Linked DNA regions of Homo sapiens: region 2 is linked to region 1. Evidence: fine-mapped expression QTL. A gene starts in region 1. The other region holds a variant in brackets. All regions are shown on one strand. Distances are from middle to middle.

Region 1 (2,910 bases):
ACAGGCAAGCGCATGGAGCCTTCGAAGTTCTCTTTAAAGTTCCTTTCAGGCAAGACCGCACCCAGGAAGCTGGGACCGACCAGCCCCCGCGGGAGATGCCCACCTGTCCCCCTCCCAACCACACACACACACACACACACACACACACACACACCCCAACCCCGCTTCAGGGGTCCCCTCCGAGAGGCTCCGCGCCCCCCAGGGCCGGGTGGCGCCGGTACTCACGTCTCGAAAGCGGTTCCAGTACTTGTCCCGGTCGTACTGGGAGACGGTGCTCAGCCACTGGTCATTGTCTAGGAAATTGCCGTGGTTGGGGCCCGCGCCTCCGGCGAGCGCGTCCAGGTGCCGGCTCTCGACTTGGAGGAAGCACCACGCCGCGGCGGCCGCCGCCAACACCGCGATCGCCGGCATCTGCGGGGCAGGGCGCGCAGGGCGATGAGCGAAGAGGGCGGGCGGCCGCGAGCCCCGGGCACCCAGGCGTCCCAGCGCCCCAGCCCGGAGGCGGGGACCCCGCGGCGGGCACGGGCAGCGCTCGCGCACCTGGGGCGCCTGTCGCGCCTCTAGACCCAGGGACCCCTCTCACGAATGGGGGACTCATCTACGAACGAGGAGGCTGCGTCACGAATCCGAGGCTGCCGTCCAACTACAGGGGACCCGTCTCGTCTATTCTCCGAGTGCCCCACAGATGCCGCCCTCCTATCAGGGGCTTGGTACCCCTCCCCAGAAGCGGGGAGCCCGGGTCCGCACGCCGCACTCCCACAGACGGTGCGGTGCACACGGCTTTGGGGCAGGAGAGGGGAGAACAGGGCTCCAGCAGCACCCGAGCTCCGGCAAGCGGGGTGGGGGCTGCCAGCAGCTGGGGGTCCCCGGCGACAGCTAAGGGAAAGGTCTCCCTTGAGCGCCCTGAGGTCTCGGGGGTAAGAAAGGCGCGCGGAGGTAACCCCAGGCCCTGACCCTGCCAGCCCCCTAGGCGGCCGCGGGGAGGTCCCAACTACTCCAAGTTGGGGCGCGGGGTTCCTCTGGGCACGTACCTTGGGGGCCGGCCCGGGTCCCCTAGTCCGAGTTGCTCGAGCTCCCGCGGCACGGTCGCCGGGAAGGCTGATCGCCGGCTCGCGCCCCTGCGCTCCTGCCACACGCCGCCGCCGAGCGTCTGGCCGCTTTGTGAGCCCGCAGCGATGTGCTCTGCTCGCTCGCTGGCTCGGGCGCGGCGTCCGCGGGCGGAGGAGGCCGAGCGCGCGAGCCAAGGCTCTGGCGCCCCCTGGTGGCCGCGCGCTGCCTGCCCGACAGCCCGGCCGCCCCAGCCCGGAACGTGGTCATTCACATCTTTTTTTTTTTTTTTTTTTTTTTTAATTTACTTCTATTTTTTTTTTTAATTATACTTTAAGTTTTAGGGTACATGTGCACATTGTGCAGGTTAGTTACATATGTATACATGTGCCATGCTGGTGCGCTGCACCCACTAACTCGTCATCTAGCATTAGGTATATCTCCCAATGCTATCCCTCCCCACTCCCCCCACCCCACCACAGTCCCCAGAGTGTGATATTCCCCTTCCTGTGTCCATGTGATCTCATTGTTCAATTCCCACCTATGAGTGAGAATATGCGGTGTTTGGTTTTTTGTTCTTGCGATAGTTTACTGAGAATGATGGTTTCCAATTTCATCCACGTCCCTACAAAGGACATGAACTCATCCTTTTTTATGGCTGCATAGTATTCCATGGTGTATATGTGCCACATTTTCTTAATCCAGTCTATCATTGATGGACATTTGGGTTGGTTCCAAGTCTTTGCTATTGTGAATAATGCCGCAATACACATACGTGTGCATGTGGCTTTATAGCAGCATGATTTATAGTCCTTTGGGTATATACCCAGTAATGGGATGGCTGGGTCAAATGGTATTTCTAGTTCTAGATCCCTGAGGAATCGCCACACTGACTTCCACAATGGTTGAACTAGTTTACAGTCCCACCAACAGTGTAAAAGTGTTCCTATTTCTCCACATCCTCTCCAGCACCTGTTGTTTCCTGACTTTTTAATGATTGCCATTCTAACTGGTGTGAGATGATATCTCATAGTGGTTTTGATTTGCATTGCTCTGATGGCCAGTGATGATGAGCATTTTTTCATGTATTTTTTGGCTGCATAAATGTCTTCTTTTGAGAAGTGTCTGTTCATGTCCTTCGCCCACTTTTTGATGGGGTTGTTTGTTTTTTTCTTGTAAATTTGTTTGAGTTCATTGTAGATTCTGGATATTAGCCCTTTGTCAGATGAGTAGGTTGCGAAAATTTTCTCCCATGTTGTAGGTTGCCTGTTCACTCTGATGGTAGTTTCTTTTGCTGTGCAGAAGCTCTTTAGTTTAATTAGATCCCATTTGTCAATTTTGGCTTTTGTTGCCATTGCTTTTGGTGTTTTGGACATGAAGTCCTTGCCCACGCCTATGTCCTGGGTCATTCACATCTTAATGCAGGGCTAAAATCAGCTTTCAGGCCCAGGCTGGTGCGAGACAGAAGAGGGGACTGAGGATATGAGGCCAAGACGCAGGCCAGCATGGAGGCATTCTCAAAAGGAAGGCCGTCGGGTTATCTAGATCAAAATCACCTGGGTGGAGAGAGAAGCGAACTTCCTAAAAATGATTCCTGCCCCACCGCCCCACTTGCTGAGTCAGCATTCCTTAGGAAAGCTTCCAAGTCTGCACTTTTAATGAGCTCCCGAGGCGTTTTTTATGCATGGCAAAGTTTGATAACCACCGTCCTGCCATTCCCTGGATAAGTGAATATCTGCACTGCCCATCCCAAGTCATGCACCCACCTGCATCTCTGCACTCCCATGCCCTATGCCATGCTTACCACTGTCCTGCCCCTTGAGAACCGGCCCCAGCACTAACCTGTTGAGTTCCCCTAGATGG
Region 2 (2,910 bases), 64 kb after region 1:
CTCACTTGGAGAACAAAATTCTCTAAGTCTCTAAAGGACTGAAAGGTAAATGAAGATGTCTAGAGTTTTCTTCTATTTTCAGTTAGCTGACTATTACGGATTAGAGTTTTCAATGCTAAAGATTTGGGAAAATAAAAAATGATACCAAATGGCCCACAATTACCTTCAATGGCAACAATGTCTTTATTTCTCAGAAGTGAGTTTACCTTGACAACCACAGCAGCTTTCACTGGATTTTTCTTTTTTTTCTTTTTTTTTTTTTGAGATGGAGTCTTGTTCTATGGCCCAGGCTAGCATGCAATGGCACAGTCTAGACTCACTGCAACCTCTGCCTCCTGGGTTCAAGCGATTCTCCTGTGTCAGCCTCCCAAGTAGCTGGGACTACAGGTGCGTGCCACCACACCCGGCTAATTTATGTATTTTTAATAGAGACAGGGTTTCACCATGTTGGCCAGGCTGGTCTCAAATCCCTGACCTCATGATCCGCCCGCCTTGGCCTCCCAAAGTGCTGGGATTACAGGCGTGAACCACCACTCCCAGCCCACTGGATTCTTTAAGAACAGCAAACCACTCACCAGCACTATGCCTGGGCCCTCACGCCATCCCTCCAGACCCTATCTGTAAAACACACAAAAGCGGGTGAAAGAGTGTGAACCTGATTCCAGACTGCTTCTCCTGCTCTCACACTCATACAAGGTTTGGGTGTTAAGTTCATTTATTTACTTAGCAAGTGCCTTGTGAGCACCCCCACCCTTTGTATTTGGCTTATATTAGGAGCGAAGGCACAGGGCGAACAAAACAGCATGCCGCCATCCCTGTCCTTATGGAATTCAGGATCTGGTGGGGATAGGCGACTGAAACAAAGTGACTCTGGAGTCAAACTCTGAGTTCAAGTCCTGGCTCCTGCTTACTAGCTGGGTGGCCTGAGCATGTTAGTTACACTTTCTGGGCTTCTGTTTCCCTGTCTCACAAAGAAGCATAATAAACTCACAAGGCTGTAACAGAGATTCCCTGAGACAATGCATGTGAAATGCTTGGCACAGGGCCTGGCGCAAAGCAGCCCAGCTGAAGGCTAATTAATATTGTCATCAGCACTTACACTTGTAATTAGCTGTTATGAAAGAAGAGAGTCCAGAGGAGGGACTGGGTGCTCACAGCAGGGAAATCATTGAGCATCTCCCAGCACCACTGCCCACCTTTCCCAATAACAGTGGTCCAGTAGGAGGAAAGAACAACTTGATCAGACTTGGCACCGTTCCTCTCTCATTAAAATCATAGCCATCAGGAACCCACAAGACTGATGCAATTTCCTGACTACAGGGTTCGACTTGGGTAATACGGAAAGGCATGCAGAGGCAGAATGCTAACACCTCCCATTCTAGGGAAATATATTGCAGGGACCCCACCATGCTGACCTTTTCCACACAGAGTATTTTGATTAACTGGCCACTGATTCCTCCCCTGCAGGTCTGGAAGACTATAAACAGAAGAAGGGGTGAGTGGTTGACCAGTCAAATTTTTGGTTCACTGAAAAGGTTAAGAGAGTGCAATAAAGCACAGTGACTGGAGGAGAGAGGAACCTCATCCCAAGTCACGAGAGGAGGAAGCCAGAAGGCGAAGCTGC[C/T]CCACACATTTGGCGCTGAAAGAGGCTGACATCTTTGCTTCTGGTCCTGAGCCAGGCTCAGCCTTTCTGCAGGCCAATTAATTCTAGACACAATATCTGCCCTAAATTCTTCAATGTAATTAGCACCACATGTTATCAACAGGAAGCTGGTACCCGCGGGCACTTGAGATAATTGTTTCAACACTGGCATTTCTCTGCTTACCGTGAAAGGTCACTGCAGCCGATATATCTCTGCTATCCCCCATTCCTTTCGTTAAATGACAAAAAGCCGTCCCTTGTCGTTACAGTTACGTCAATTCATGGGTGCAGGGCTCAGGACATCCATACAAAGGCTTCTTAGCAGTAAGTATGCTCTAAGAGTTTGCAATAATTACTTCCTGTGACTTCTGACATCAGCAGTGTCACACCCCCCTCATATAGGCCGTATTGCCTGACATTGTTATATTGCCTGACATCTTTGGGCTGCTGGGGCGGCTGGGGAACGTCTGCACAAGGGAGCCGCCTCTTTGCTGCCCCAGTTGCAGGAGGCCTTTACAGATGGAGCACATAGAATGACAAACAATGGCTGTTTAGAGCAGTACTGAATGTTTTGCTCTGTCTTGTTACTTGACCTGTGAGTGCAGTGGGCTGAGAAGTACATCTTAGTTTGCTGTGAATAGGACTTAGTGTGCTCAGGATGACTGCACTGGACAATTGCCACCAAGACTACTCAGGACGCCCCCACACATTCTCCAGGAGAGCAAGGAAAGTGGAAATCTTACAAAGTTTCCTCACCTCACCCTGCACCCATGCTGCAGCCACACTGAATCCCTCTTTACATTTTTTTTTTTTGAGACAGTCTTGCTCTGCCACCCAGGTTGGAATGCAGTGGCATAATCTTGGCTCACTGCAACCTCTGCCTCCCAGGTTCAAGCAATTCTTCTGCCTCAGCCTCCCGAGTAGCTGGGATTACAGGCTCCCGCCACCATGCCCGGCTAATTTTTTTGTATTTTTAATAGAGACAGGGTTTCACCATGTTGGTCAGGCTGGTCTCAAACTACTGACCTCAGATAACCCACCTGCCTTGGCCTCCCAAAGTGCTGGGATTACAGGCGTGAGCCTCCGCACCCAGCCTACCCTCACTCTTGCACAAGCCCCATTCTCTCACCTCTAGAACTGTCTGTTCTTCCTTTTTCTCCGGGCACTCTTCTCTCACCCCTCATTTCACCTGGCTAGTGCATACTCATTATTCACCCTAGATAGCATTTCCTCTGGAAGCCTTCCCTGAAGCCCCCTGAACTAGGTAG

What was found.
Region 2: its variant is fine-mapped to the expression of SPOCK1 in whole blood (TOPMed, PIP above 0.99). The same link has a PIP of 0.9 or more in blood mononuclear cells.

The regions. Positions count from the first base shown.
Region 1 is chr5:137,498,148-137,501,057 of GRCh38, forward strand. It overlaps SPOCK1 (SPARC (osteonectin), cwcv and kazal like domains proteoglycan 1), which reads right to left and starts at 1,179. Exons shown (of 11, transcript NM_004598.4): 1 at 1,032-1,179; 2 at 226-411. The coding sequence starts at 411. RefSeq lists a silencer at 1,130-1,349.
Region 2 is chr5:137,562,468-137,565,377 of GRCh38, forward strand. No RefSeq gene overlaps it. Among named protein-coding and RNA genes, the nearest start is that of SPOCK1, 65 kb to the left of the region's middle. The variant C/T (reference allele first, on the strand shown) is at 1,625.